Linked DNA regions of Homo sapiens: region 1 is linked to region 2. Evidence: fine-mapped expression QTL. A gene starts in region 2. The other region holds a variant in brackets. All regions are shown on one strand. Distances are from middle to middle. Region 1 overlaps ZAN (zonadhesin). Region 2 holds the start of GIGYF1 (GRB10 interacting GYF protein 1).

Region 1 (4,372 bases), 50 kb before region 2:
TCCCAAAGTGCTGGGATTACAGGCTTGAGCCACTACACCCGATTGCCTCTTCCTTTTCTTTACCCGCTGGACATAACCTATTCACGCAAACTGGCGAGAGATACAGCGGCTCTGACACAGAGGAGCAAGAGGCAAACCCCCTCTCACCCAACACCACCTCGGCCCCCAGCTCAGACAGCCAATCAGCGTGGACCTCGCTAGGTGACGCAACTGGTAGCGAAAAAGAAAATGTAAGCGGCTGCCACTCGTGGGGAGCGCGCTCGCGTGCGTGCTCACGCCCGAGTCCAAGGGAGTCTTGCCTGGCGCGCGCTCACTCCTGCCGAAGGTGGGATCCTGAGCGGCGGCGAAGAGGCTGGAATGGCGGGAATGGGCGGGAGGAAGGAGAAGAAAGGAAACAACCGGGAAGGAAGAGGGAAGGGAAAGGAAAGGAAGTGGGAAAATGATGAAAGAGAAATCAAGGACACGGGCTGGCGCGGTGGCTCACGCCTGTAATCCCAGCACTTTGGGAGACCGAGGCGGGCGGATCACCTGAGGTCAGGGGTTCTAGACCAGCTTGGCCAACATGGCGAAATCCCGTCTCTACTAAAAGTACAAAAATTAGCCGGGCGTGGTGGCGGGCATCTGTAATCCCAGCTACTCGGGAGGCTGAGGCAGGAGAATCGCTTAAACCCGGGAGGCGGAGGTTGCAGTGAGCTGAGATCGCGTCACCGCACTCCAGCCTGGGCGACAGAGCGAGACTGTCTCAAAAAACAAACAAACAACAACAACAAAAAAAAAACCAAGGAGACCTATGAGAAACAGAAGAGGAGAAATGGGAGAAAAAGAAGTGAAAGGTGAAGAAAATATAAGGAAGCGAGCAAGATGGAAAAGGAAAGGGAAAGAAAGGAAAAATAAAAAGCCAACCAGCATTTACTGAAGCTGCTGGGCGCGGTACACGGTGCTAAATGCTGAGGGGTTGCAGAGAGGGCTGGTCGGCTTTCAGTGAAGGTGGGGCCAGGGCTTCTTAAGGCCTTATTTATTTATGTACGTATTTATTTATTTATTTTTATTGAGATGGAGTCTCACTCTGTTGCCCAGGCTGGAGTGCAGTGGCGCTATCTCGGCTCACTGCAACCTCCGCCTCCCAGGTTCAAACAATTCTCCTGCCTCAGCCTCCCGAGTGTTGGGATTACAGGTGCACACCACCAAGCCCAGCTAATTTTTTGTATTTTTAGTAGAGACGGGTTTCGCTATGTTGGCCAGGCTGGTCTCGGACTCCTGACCTCTGGTGATCCACCTGCCTCCGCCTCCCAAAGTGCTGGGATTACAGGCATGAGCCACCACGCCTGGCCAGGGCCCTTCTAGAAAACAAAGTTTAGGCAGCAGGAAAGATCAGAGACAGGAGTGCAGGAGTCCAAGTGGACACTGATGGAGTGGAGAGAGGAAAAGATGGGGAAAAACAGAAAAGAAAATACGGCAGAGGCAGGAGGATCACTTGAGGCCAGGAGTCCGAGACCAGCCTGGGCAACATAGCAAGACCCCATCTTTACAAATAAAGAAAATAAAATAAAGTGTGGAAATGGTAAAGTGGAAGGGAGGAAATGGATTGAGAAAGGATAAGTATTAAGGGAAAAGAAGAACAAAGAGATATAGGCTGGGCGTGGCAGCTCACACCTGTACTTCAAGCACTTTGGGAGGCCGAAGCAGGAAGATGGCTTGAGGCCCAGAGTTTGAGACCAGCCTGGGCAATGTAGCAAGACCCCATCTCTATTTTTATTTATTTATTTATTTTGAGACACAATCTCACTCTGTCGCCCAGGCTGGAGTGCAGTAGTGCGATCACAGCTCACTGCCACCTCCACCTCCCAGGCTCAATCAGTCCTCCCACGTCAGCCTCCCGAGTATCTGGGACTACAGGTGTGTGCCACCACACTGGGCTAATTTTTGTATTTTTTGTAGAGACAAGATCTCACTATATGTTCCAGGCTGGTCTTGAACTCGTGGCCTCAAGTGATCTGCCCACCTCGGCCTCCCAAAGTGCTGGGATTACAGGCATGAGCTACTGCACCTGGCCTAGTTTTTAAAAACATTTTTTTAAATTCAAAAATAAGAATTATAAACTCAGGAAATTAGGGAGCAGAACCCTCTATGCTTGACCTACAGTGCTTGGCTCAGTGAGGGGTTGAAATGTGGGCTGTGTGAGAAGATTAAGAGAGAAAGTGAATGTTGTGTGAGAGAGAAAAGGAAGAAGTCAACAGTAGAAAGAGAAAGAAGCTCAGCTGAGTGCACAGGGAGGTGGTGGAAAGAAGCTAGGGATAGACTTGGGTGCATAGAAAGAAAGAATATCAGCCAGGCATGGTGGCTTACGCTTGTAATCCCAGCATTTTGGGAGGCCAAGTGGGTGGATCACGAGGTCAGAAGATCGAGACCACCCTGACCAACATGGTGAAACCCCATCTCTACTAAAAATACAAAAAATTAACTGGGCATG[G/A]TGACGCACACCTGTAATCCCAGCTACTCGGGAGGCTGAGGCAGGAGAATCGCTTGAACCCGGAAGGCAGAGGTTGCAGTGAGCTGAGATCGTGCCATTGCACTCCAGCCTGGCAACAGCAAGATTCTGTCTCAAAAAAAAAAAAAGAAAGAAAAAGAAAGAGTGTCGCCTGGATTTTTGCAAAAGCCTCCTAAACAGCCTCTCTGCATCGACCCTTGCCTGTTCTCCTCAGTGGATTCTCAACACAAAAAAAATCCTTAAAAAATAAGTCAGATCGTCCCCGTCCCCCTCCCCCTCCCTCTCCCTCGTCTCCGTCTCCGTCTCCCTCTCCCCACGGTCTCCCTCTCATGCGGAGCCGAAGCTGGACTGTACTGCTGCCATCTCGGCTCACTGCAACCTCCCTGCCTGATTCTCCTGCCTCAGCCTGCCGAGTGCCTGCGATTGCAGGCACGCGCCGCCACGCCTGACTGGTTTTGGTGGAGACGGGGTTTCGCTGTGTTGGCCGGGCGGGTCTCCAGCCCCTAACCGCGAGTGATCCGCCAACCTCGGCCTCCCGAGGTGCCGGGATTGCAGACGGAGTCTCGTTCACTCAGTGCTCAATGGTGCCCAGGCTGGAGTGCAGTGGCGTGATCTCGGCTCACTACAACCTCCACCTCCCAGCCGCCTGCCTTGGCCTCCCAAAGTGCCGAGATTGCAGCCTCTGCCCGGCCGCCACCCCGTCTGGGAAGTGAGGAGTGTCTCTGCCTGGCCGCCCATCGTCTGGGATGTGAGGAGCCCCTCTGCCCGGCCGCCCAGTCTGGGAAGTGAGGAGCGTCTCCGCCCGGCCGCCATCCCATCTAGGAAGTGAGGAGCGCCTCTTCCCAGCCGCCATCACATCTAGGAAGTGAGGAGCGTCTCTGCCCGGCCGCCCATCGTCTGAGATGTGGGGAGCACCTCTGCCCCACCGCCCCATCTGGGATGTGAGGAGCGCTTCTGCCCGGCCGAGACCCCGTCTGGGAGGTGAGGAGCGTCTCTGCCCGGCCGCCCCGTCTGAGAAGTGAGGAGACCCTCTGCCTGGCAACCACCCCGTCTGAGAAGTGAGGAGCCCCTCCGCCCGGCAGCTGCCCCGTCTGAGAAGTGAGGAGCCTCTCCGCCCAGCAGCCACCCCATCTGGGAAGTGAGGAGCATCTCCGCCCGGCAGCCACCCCGTCCGGGAGGGAGGTGAGGGGGGGTCAGCCCCCCGCCCGGCCAGCCGCCCCATCCGGGAGGGAGGTGGGGGGTCAGCCCCCCGCCCGGCCAGCCGTGCCATCCGGGAGGGAGGTGGGGGGGTCAGCCCCCCGCCCGGCCAGCCGCCCGGTCCGGGAGGTGAGGGGCGCCTCTGCCCGGCCGCCCCTACTGGGAAGTGAGGAGCCCCTCTGCCCGGCCAGCCGCCCCGTCCGGGAGGGAGGTGGGGGGGTCAGCCCTCCGCCCGGCCAGCCGCCCCGTCTGGGAGGTGAGGGGCGCCTCTGCCCGGCCGCCCCTACTGGGAAGAGAGGAGCCCCTCTGCCCGGCCAGCCGCCCCGTCCGGGAGGGAGGTGGGGGGGTCGGCCCCCCGCCCGGCCAGCCGCCCCGTCCGGGAGGGAGGTGGGGGTGTCGGCCCCCCGCCCGGCCAGCCGCCCCGTCCGGGAGGGAGGTGGGGGGGGTCAGCCCCCCTGCCCGGCCAGCCGCCCCATCCGGGAGGTGAGGGGCGCCTCTGCCCGGCCACCCCTACTGGGAAGTGAGGAGCCCCTCTGCCCGGCCAGCCGCCCCGTCCGCGAGGGAGGTGGGGGGGTCAGCCCCCCGCCCGGCCAGCCGCCCCGTCCGGGAGGGAGGTGGGGGGGGTCAGCCCCCCTGCCCGGCCAGCCGCCCCGTCCGGGAGGGAGGTGGGGGGGGTCAGCCCCCCTG
Region 2 (4,372 bases):
GGCTTCTGGGAAGTAAGGTATACATTCTGGAGTAACTTCCAAAGAAAAAGGTGAAAGCATACGCGGAACTTTTGAGCCTTGAAAAAGTTCAGCGAGTCATTCTTGAAAAGTCCTTTTTTTAAACAAAGGGGGTTTCAGTCACCTCACATTTGCATAGCAGTTTCTCTCTTGTCAAAGCCTTTCACATTCACTTATTTTAATTCTTACAGCACTCAAGGAAGAGTGTGGAGTTGGGGGTCGGGGGTTGGGTGCAGAGCAGTGTTAACATCCTTCTGTAAGAGAAACGGAGGCTTTTGAGAGGCCAGGCGTGGCGGCTCATGCCTGTCATCCCGGCACCTTGGAAGGAGGATCCATTTGGGTCCAGGAGTTCCCGGCACTTTGGAAGGAGGATCATTTGGGTCCAGGAGTTCAAGACCAGCCTGGGCAACATGGGGGAAACCCTGTCTCTACAAAAAAAAAAAAAAAAAAAAAAAAAAAGCTGGGCGTGGTGGTGTGCCCTGGTAGTCCTAGCTACTCAGGGTGCTTGAGGCAGGAGGATTGCTTGAGCCCAGGAGGCGCAGGATGCAGTTAACCGTGATCGCGCCACTGCACTCCAGCCTGGGCGACAGAGCAAGACTCTGTCTTGGAAAACAAACAAACAACAAATACAATAAATTAAAAAAATTAGTTGGGTGTGGTGGCACACAGCTGTAGTCCCAGCTACTCAAGAGGCTGTGGCAGGAGGATCCCTTGAGACCAGGAGTTCAAGACCAGCCTGGGCAATGTTATGAGACACGCCACCCGCCCAGTCTTTACAGAGAATAAAAAAGTTATCTGGGTGTGATGGTGCACACCTATAGTCCCAACAATTCAGGAGGCTGAGATGGGAGGATCGCTTGAGACACGGGAGTTGGAGGCTGCCGTAAGCCGAGATCGGGCTAGTACACTGCAGCTGGGGCAACAGAGTGAGACCCTGCTTCAAAAAAATAAATAAATAGGGGCCGGGCGCGGTGGCTCACGCCTGTAATCCCAGCACTTTGGGAGGGCGAGACAGGCGGATCACTTGAGTGGTCAGGAGTTCTAGACCAGCCTGGCCAACAAAAATAAGCCAAACGTGGTGGTGTGTGCTTGTAATCTCAGCTACTCGGGAGGCCAAGGCATGAGAATCACTTGAATCCGGGAGGCGGAGGCTGCAGTGAGCCGAGATCGCGCCACTGGACTGCAACCTGGGGGACAGAGCAACACTCTGTCTCAATAATTAAATAAATAATTAAAAAAATAAAGAGGCTCCTGAGAGTCAACTTATTTGCCTGAGCCACTTATTTCACACATCCCAGGACGCCTGATGAAGGGTTCTGGATTTTATTGTCTCCTGTCATCCAGGCGGGCTTCCTGGAGGAAACCGGACCGCCAGGGAGGCCGCGGCCTCGGTCCCAGAGGTCGCGCGTCGCGGGGCCGGGGGAGGTGGGGGAGAGGAGGCCGCTCTGGGGCCGATCCCGCCCGCAGCTGGGGGCCCCCGTCACGTGACCAGCCGGGCGCCCAGGTCACGTGTCGGGGCGGGGAGGGGGGGGGCTGTCGGGGGCGACGGGCGTCCGGGCAGTGGCGCGCGCGGCACGCGAGCAGCGCACGAGGAGAGGTGGCGCGGGCCGGAGCCGCGGAGGGAGGCGGCGGCGGCGGCGGCGGCGGCGGCGGCGGCGGCGGCGGCGGCGGCGGCGGCGGCGGCGGCGGCGGCGGTGGAAGGGGCGGCCCCGCGGCCCCGCGTCCGCGTCACGTGGTGCGAGGCGGGCAGCCATCTTGCTACAAACACAAACACAGAGGAGCGGCCGCCGCGGGAGCGCCAGCGCCCCCTCCCCCGCTGCTAGCCGCCGTCGCCGTCCCCGGCCCCCGCCCGCCGCGCGCCGCCCACGCCCCGGGACCGGACCCTCGCGCCGCCCGCGGTAAGCGCCCAGTGGCCCCGCGGCCCCCGGCCCGCAGCCCAGCCCCGGGGCAGGCCCGCCCCCGACGCCGCGGCGGCCGCGCCGAGCCCGCGAGCTAGAGAAGCGCCGGAGCCAGCGCGCGGGCCGCCAGCGAGGACCCTCCCCCGTCTCCTCCCCGAGGCCGCCGCAGCCCGGTGCGTCCTCCCGCTCTCCCGCCCGCTCCGGCCCATCCCCGCCGCCGGGACCCTCCCCCAGAGCCGGCCAGCCTCGGGGAGGCCCCGGGAGGCCGGCGCCCGGCTTAGGGGGCGACCGCTCGCCCCCCTCGCACCTGGCGCCCCTCCCTGAAGGGCACGCCGTCCTCCCGGGCCGGCGCGCTGCCTTCCACCCCCGCGCTCCTAACGGTCGCCCCCGGGCCCCTGCCAAGCCCTGCCCTGGGCCGCCTGGGGGCCCCCGACCCTAGCGTCCTAGGGTGGCCGGGCCCCGCGCTTCCCGGAGTTCTCCCCAGCGCGCCTTTGGGTTCCCCTCGGAACGAGCTGGGCCTTGCGGTTCCCCAGGTCCAAGCGTTCCACGACTTTGGCCAACATGGAAGCCTTGCCCTCCACCCAGGCACCTCGCCTGGGTCCTCCTCACCTCTGTTTCCTTTCGCTCCGGCGATCTTAGTGCTGGGTCATTGGGGTCTCCTTCTTCCCAGTTGCTCGGCCGCGGGAAATACCTTCCTTAGCAGAGACTGCTTGTCCTCCCCGTCCCAGGCCAGGCCCTTCTCAGCTCATGCCCCTCCGTGCAGCAGCTCCCTGGCCACAGCTCTCACACTTTGCCTTAAAAAAAAAAAAAAACAAAAAAATTTCCGAGTAACTTTTTAAAAGCCCCTCGTCTCTCTTCTCTGTTATACAGTCATTACTCGCATTCCCGGTCAGACTCCAGGTCTGTTGCATCCTAGTGCTAGGAACTAGGAGATGCTACATAAAGACTTGTTAGCTGGATTGGATTTTTTTTTTCCAGCCACCCAAGCCTTACTTCCCTCCTGCCTCTCAAAGTGTCGTTCTGGAAGATCGTCAGCTTTCCCACCCTCTTGTGCACTGCCTCTTCGAGTCTATATAGAAGTTTCAATTTAGAACCCCGCCAACCCCTCGCCTTTGGCATGGAAACACCATCGGTGGTACCAGTAAGGGTCTCTCCTTTGCTGCCGACATGGGGGATTTGGGGTTCTTTCTCCTTCCCATCTTTCCTGTGCCCTTTGCAGACCTAGGCTAGCCACCCTCCACCAGGCTAGCCAGCTCCAATCTGATTTTCTTAGATTGTAGGTCTTGGTCCCCCAGCGGTCTGTCGTGCCATTGGGAAGGATTTGAGGGTAGACCTGGCCTTGGTGTCCCTGCCATTGCCTGGGGACCAGGGGCCCTGAGGGTCCCACGTGGTGGTTAGTCAAGTGGACCATGTGCTTAAACTTCTGGACTAGCTTTTTCTGCTGTTGGACACATCAGTCTTGTGTTCGTGATCTGATGCGTTAGCCCTAACTTTTACATCTGCTATTGGAATTTGGGAATTAAAGAAAAATAGCCCACTTTAGAGGAGAGAAGATGAGAGGAGGAGGCTAGATGAAGGATGTTGAAAGTCTAACAAATGTAAAATGGCTTCAAACTCACAGAATAATGCTTGCGAGTTTGGGATGGTTACTGCTACCGTGCGCACCTCCAGTCTTGCATAGTGTCAAGGATGTCGGGGCACGCTGTCGGAGCAGCTTCCTCCTTCTTTTCCCTGGCTGGAGCCCAAGGCTGGGCAAGTGGGCAAAAGGGATCACAGGAGGTAAAGAGTGAAAATCCTTTGAAAACTGTTAACTTGTAGACAATTGCCAAGCGGTGGTGTGATTTGCTGGGATGGCTCAGAGAGGAGAGAGCTGGGATAACCGACCAGCCGCGAAGAATGCGGGTTTGCATCTCTTTTTTAAGCCTCAGCGTCCTCACCCTACCACGCTTGGAGAATCTCCATCCTGAGAAAGGGCCAGGTCCCCTCCAGCAGGCCTGGGGCTGGGCGGTTGTTCCAGTGTTGAGGAATTGGGGACTGTGCTTCTGTTTAAGTGGCTCTGTTCTGTGCCAAGGCACAGTGCTCTGTGTTGGAGCTAATTTTAGGGGTGATGGAGTGAGGAGATAATGTTCTTAGCTGAATGTGCACTGGGACCGCCTGTTCTCTGTCTTTTCTTTCTCTCTTGAGTTCTGAGCCCCAGAGAGCAGGCTCCCTTTCCCGCGCGCCCTGGCGCCTACTGGAGCACCCGGGCCCAGCGTGTCCTCGCCCCTTGTCTCCGGCAGGGGGCAGTCTTTCAAAAGCATTGATTCAGATGCTGGGGGAGTGAGGGTAGACAGGCCCGAGAAAGAGAAGGGGTGGGGAAGGGGCGAGGAGCCGAAGTAGGCCGAGGCTTGAGGGCAGGGCCAGGGCGGGGGACAGGCTGGAAGGGGCCTGTGAGAAGGAGACCCTGAGCTGAGAAA

The links. PIP is the estimated chance that this variant, and not a neighbour inherited with it, causes the effect.
Region 1: its variant is the best candidate, but not a certain one, in a credible set for the expression of GIGYF1 in whole blood (TOPMed, PIP 0.84).

The regions. Positions count from the first base shown.
Region 1 is chr7:100,741,276-100,745,647 of GRCh38, reverse strand. All of the region lies in intron 7 of ZAN (zonadhesin), which reads right to left. Among named protein-coding and RNA genes, the nearest start is that of ZAN, 9.9 kb to the right of the region's middle. RefSeq lists an enhancer at 323-372. The variant G/A (reference allele first, on the strand shown) is at 2,471.
Region 2 is chr7:100,691,654-100,696,025 of GRCh38, reverse strand. It overlaps GIGYF1 (GRB10 interacting GYF protein 1), which reads left to right and starts at 1,776. Exons shown (of 27, transcript NM_001375765.1): 1 at 1,776-1,916. RefSeq lists an enhancer at 1-670, silencers at 1,358-1,517, 1,958-2,057, 2,228-2,347, 4,110-4,279 and a cis regulatory region at 1,209-2,702.